Regions from separate parts of the Homo sapiens genome. Here region 1 is linked to region 2. The links come from fine-mapping of genetic effects on gene expression. A gene starts in region 2. The other region holds a variant in brackets. All regions are shown on one strand. Distances are from middle to middle. Region 1 overlaps LINC02320 (long intergenic non-protein coding RNA 2320). Region 2 holds the start of PPP2R5C (protein phosphatase 2 regulatory subunit B'gamma).

Evidence for each region.
Region 1: its variant is fine-mapped to the expression of PPP2R5C in aorta (GTEx, PIP above 0.99). The same link has a PIP of 0.9 or more in lung, thyroid and tibial artery.

What each region holds. Positions count from the first base shown.
Region 1 is chr14:101,659,059-101,661,860 of GRCh38, forward strand. All of the region lies in intron 1 of LINC02320 (long intergenic non-protein coding RNA 2320), which reads right to left. Among named protein-coding and RNA genes, the nearest start is that of LINC00239, 70 kb to the right of the region's middle. The variant G/A (reference allele first, on the strand shown) is at 1,544.
Region 2 is chr14:101,760,120-101,762,921 of GRCh38, forward strand. It overlaps PPP2R5C (protein phosphatase 2 regulatory subunit B'gamma), which reads left to right and starts at 1,590. Exons shown (of 16, transcript NM_001352913.2): 1 at 1,590-1,801; 2 at 2,786-2,802. The coding sequence starts at 1,775. RefSeq lists silencers at 436-545, 616-765, 826-875, 1,336-1,495, 1,506-1,745 and 2 more.

The sequences.
Region 1 (2,802 bases), 100 kb before region 2:
CTATTTTCTCCTTATGACCTTTGTGCTATTGTTGTCATACATTTTTCTTCTATAAATGTATAAAACCAACAATATGTTGTCATTCTTTTTATATTTAAGATGTGTAAACAATTTTTAAAATCTTACATATTTACCATGTAGTTACCATTTAAGATACTCTTCATTCTTTTGTGTATATCCATATTTCTACATGGTACAATTTTCCTTCTACTTGACATTTTCTTTAACATTTCCTGTAGTGCAGGTCTGTTGGTCATGAACTCCTTCAGCTTTTGTATTTCTAAAAACCTTTTAATTTTTACCCTCATTTTTAAAGATATTTTCACTAAGATAGAATTCTAGGTTGCAGGTTTTTTATTTTAGTACTTTAAAGATGTTGCTCCACTGTCTCTTTGCTTTTTCCTCACTGTTTCCAATAAGAAATGTGCTATTATTTTTATCTTTTTTCCTATGTACATAATTTCCCACCCCTGACCTCTGGCTGCTTTTTTTTTTCTTGTTTTTGGGGGGATGGGGCTTTGCCATGTTGCTGAGGCTGGTCTTGAACTCCTGGGCTCCAGCAATCCTCCCACCTCAACCTCCCAAGTAGCTGGGATTACAGATGTGCACTACCAAGGCTGGCTCTCCTCTGGCTGCTTTTAAGATTTTTCTCTTATCATCGATTTTGAGTAATTTGATTATGATGTGCTTTGGAATAGTTTTCCTTAGGTTTCTTGTGCTTGGACTTCGTTAAGTTTCTTAGGTGAGTTTACAGTTTTTATCAAACTTAGAAAAACATTTAGCTGTTATTGCTTCAAATATTTTTTCTGTTCCCTCTCTCTCTTCTCTTTGGAACTCCAATTATCCGTATTACTCATATATTAGACCACTTTGAATTTGTCCTACAGCTCACTGATGCTCTTTTATTTGGGTTTATTGTAAGTGAAATGTTGTATTGGTGCACAGTGTTCCATAAAATGAAAGGTTGCTATCTTTGTTCCTCTTAGAAAGAGAAAATACCCTATCAGATTCTCTGTCAGAGCTTGCCTCCAGCTTCTGCTAAAAGTGCTTCTCAGTATTAACTATTTTTCCAATTTCTTCCTTGTGGTAAAATACATATAACACAAAATTTACCATCTCAACAATTTTCAAGTATACAGTTCAGTGGTATTAAATACGTTTTCAATGTTGTGCAGCCATCCATCTCCAGAACTCTTTTCATTGTGTACAACTAAAACTCTATAACCATTAAACAGTAACTCCCCATTTCCACCTTCCTCTAGCCCCTGGCAACCACTATCCTATTTTCTGTCTCTGTGATTTTGACTACTCTAAGTACCTCATACAGGTGGAATCATACAGTATTTTTTTTGTATGATAGGCTTTGTGTGATGGGCTTATTTTGCTGAACATAATGTTCTCAAAGTTCATCCATTTTGTAGCATATATCAGAATTCCCTTCCTTTTTAAAGCCAAATAATAATCCATTATATGTATACAGTTGTTCATCCATATCCATGGGTTCTGCATGCATGGATTCAACCAACCACAGATAAAAATATTT[G/A]AAAACAATTGCGTATGTACTTAACATGCACAGACTTTTTCCTTGTCATTATTCCCTAAACAATACAGTATACCTATTTATATAATGTTTACATTATATTAGGTATTATAAGTAATCTAGAGATGATTTAAAGTACATGGGAGGAAGTGTATAAGTTGTATGCAAATAATACACTATTTTACATTGGGGACTTGAACATCTGTGGGTTTTTTTATCCACAGGAGGTCCTGGAACCAATCCCCCATGTATACCAACGGACAACCTTATACATTTTATTTCTTCATTCATCTATCAGTGGACACTTGGGTTGCTTCCACATTTCAGCTATTGTGAATAATGCTGCTATTAACATGGTTGTATAAACATTTCTTTGTGAATCTACTTTCAGTTATTTTAGATACATACCCAGAAGTGGAATTGCTGAATCAAATGGTAATTCTATTTTTAATGTTTTGACAGATTGCCATACTGTTTCCCACAGTGGCTGTACCATTTTACATTCCCACCAAGATGGTACAAGGGCTCTAATTTCTCCACATTCTTGCCAACACTTCTCATTTTGTGTTTTTTAAAATAGCCATGTAATGGGTGTGAGATGGTGTTTCATCATAATTTTGATTTGCATTTCCCCAATGATTAGTTACGTTGAGCATCTTTTCATGTGCTTATTGGCCATCTGTATATCTTCTTTAAAGTAATATCTATTTGAGTCCTTTGCCCATTTTTTGAAGCAGGTTGTTTGGTTTTGTTTGTCTTGAGTTTGAGGAGTTCTGTATATGTTCTGAACATTAATATCTTATCAAATATATGATTTGCAAAATAGCTGTTGATTGCCTCTTGATGCACACAATTTTTCAATTATTATAAAGTCTAATAAGTCTATGTTTTCTTTTGTTGCCTGTGCTTTTTGTGTCATATCCAAGAAATCACTGCTAAATTCAATGTCATGAAGATTTTGCCCTGTCTCTTTTAAGAGTCTTATAATTGTAGGCCTTACAAGTAGGTAATCCATTTCGAGTTAATTTTTGTATATAGTTTTAGGTAAGGATCTGACATAATTTGGATATTTGTTCCCTCTAAATCTAATACTAAAATGTGATCCTCGATGTTGGAGGTGAGACCTAGCGCGAGATGCTTGAGTCACGAGGGCAGATCCCTCATGAATGTCTTTGTGCCCTCCTCATGGTAATGAGTGAGCTCTTGCTCTATTAGTCACCATGAGATCTGATTGTTAAAAAGAGCCTGGCACTTTCTCCTCT
Region 2 (2,802 bases):
ATCATCACAGGTGAAGCACCAATGCCTCTCGCACGTGAAATCCGTACGCTCCTAGAGTCTTACTACCTAATGCATTTCTGCAATCTGGGACGCCTGTCCTTAGCGTCTTCAATAGTTTTGGGCACGAGGTGGACCGCGGAAGTATTGTATTGAAAAGTTAACGTTTTTCCCTTGGACACCCTCTCCTCACAGCTATTAACAAGCTGAGAGAAATCAGGTGACTCCCAGTCATGCAGAGGTTTCCTCACCATTTATGATCAAGCCAAATTAAAGAATAAAAATAAAATCCTATTGGCGCAGCGGCCACCAAGTCTTTGAGGCCTCGCCTCGGTGGGCGGGGCCGACGCCGGAGGAGAGGGGCTGCGCATGTGGGCGTGACCTCGCGGAAGGAGCTGCGGAGGGCGGGGCCGACTGGAGAGGGGCGGGGCTGTCGGGTGGGTGGGACCTCGCGGCAAAAGCTGCGGAGGGCGGGACCAACCAGGAAAGGACGGGACTGTCGGGTAGGCGGGACCTTGCGGGAGAAACTGCGGAGGGCGGGACCAACCAGGGAGGGGCGGGCTGTCGGATGGGCGGGACCTCGCGGGAGGAGCTGCGGAAAGCTGAGCTGGTGAGGGGAGGGGCTGGTCGAGGGGAGGGGCTGGTCGAGGGGAGGGGCTGGCCGAGGGAAGGGGCCGGCCGAGGGGAGGGGCCGGTCGAGGGGAGGGGCCGGTCAAGGGGAGGGCCCGGCCAAGGGGAGGGGCCGGTCGAGGGGAGGGGCCGGTCGAGGAGAGGGGTTGGTCGAGGGGAAGGGCTGGCCGAGGGGAGGGGCTGGCCGAGGGAAGAGGAGGGGAGGGGACGGGCTGGTCGAGGGGAGGGGAGGGGAGGGCAGGGGACGGGCTGGTCGAGAGAAGGGGAGGGCAGGGGACGGGGTGGTCGAGGGGAGGGGACGGAGGGGAGGGGAGTGGAGGGAGAGGAGGGAAGGGGAGGGGAGGGAAGGGAGGGGAGGCGGGGCCCAGCGGTGTCCCGCGAAACTGCCGCTCGCTCGGTTCCCGGGCCTCCCCGTGCGCCTCAGTGCAAAGCGTGCCAGGCACTCTTGACTGCAACGAGAGCCGCGGCGGTGAGGGGGCAAGGCCAAGAGGCCACGGTTCGCGTTTCGCCGGCTGCAGAAGTTGTTGCCATACATTTCAAATGTGCATTTCCTACGTCTCACGCTCTGTCTTGCGCCTCCACAGCGGGCCACGGCCCTGTCACCGCAGTCGCAGCCACATGCTCCCTCCCCTGAGTCGGCTCAGCTCTGCTCAGCGGTCAGCCCCGCGCCAGGAGGCCGCGGCCTGCCTGAGGCCGGCTCGCAGCGACTCGGGACGGAGGGCGGGGGCGTGAACGGGTCGCGCGGAGAGGGTGGGGGGAGCGGGGAGCGTTAGGGTACGTGGGGGCGCGTCGACCAATGGCAGGGCGCTGTTGAGTGCAGCGGGGCGGGGCCGGGCGCGGGGGTGGGGCGAGCGGCGGGCGGGGCGGGGCGGCCGGCCGGGGGGTGGGAGGAGAGGGGCGGGGCGGGCCGGCCGGGGGAGGGGCGGAGAGACGCCGCCGCTGCCGCCGCCGCCGCCGCCGCCGCCGCCGTGGCTGCCGCAGCCTCTGGGAGTCTGGAAAAGGGGAAGCGAGAGCAAGCGAAAGACTCAGTCCCCGGGCGGCGGCGGCGGCGGCGGCCGCGGGGGCGCGACGGCCGGGGCGGGGGCGCTGCTGCTGCGGGGGCAGGCGGCGGCAGGGGCGGCGGCGGCGGCGGCGGCCCGCTCCAGCCATGCCGAATAAAAACAAGAAGGAGAAAGTGAGTCCGGGCCCGGCCGCGGGACGGAGGGAGCAGGGAGGGACTGCCGGGGGAGGGCGCGACGGCACCGGGGTCCTGCGCCCGGGCCCCGGCTCAGTTCCCCGCCTGACGCCGCGGGCTTCGCGTCCCCGAGGGCGGCCGAGCCAGGCATCCCCGGGCTTCTCTCGGCCTCATGCCCGGTGGGGGCGGGGAGCCCGGGGATCGCGCCGGAGCCGCGGGGCGCAGGCCCGGGCCGCTGGGACCTTCGTGATGGGCCGGGGCTGGGCGTGGAGGGAGGGCGCGGCCCGGGGAGGGGGTCGGAGGGGCGCCCGTTTCCGACAGCGCGCCGTGGGCTTGGGCGGGCAGGTGCGGCCGCCGAGGGGGTTCGCAGCCTCGCAGGCTCCCGGAAAGGAGCTTCAGGGATGGGGGCTGTAGACGCCTGGGGAGGGACCCCTGTACGGGGGAAAGGGAGCGAGAAGGGACCCCGCTGAGAGCTGGTAAGGAATTCTCTGCCGCCCCGGAGGGACGCTCTGGGGCTCTCGAACACTATTATTATCCTGGGTGGCGGCGGCGGTGAGGGCTGCGAGCAAGGGTGCTGCGTTTGCATTCGGGGGGGCGGGTATGTTTCTGCTTCAGGTGGAGCTCTGTAGCGTTTCATTATCACCCCAGAAATCCTCACTCATAGGGTTTAGGGTGGGAGGGTAGAAAGGGATGTGATGTGGATCTCAAAATGCCAGAAGCACTGTATAAAATTGGATTTATCTGTTTTCTGCTTGAAGTTTTCAACCTCAAATGCAGATAAAACGAAAAGAATCTGAATGGGGGTTGGGGGGCATTGCACTGTTGGAATCCTAAACGGTATGATATAGAATTTCCTAATGGTATGAATTAAAAATATCAGAAGCTGTAGTTGTATAAATCACTTTTAAAACTGCATTTGGCTTATCTGATGTTTACCTGTCTAAAAAGTGAGAAGACTAATTGACTTTGCTTGATGTTTACCAGGAATCACCAAAAGCAGG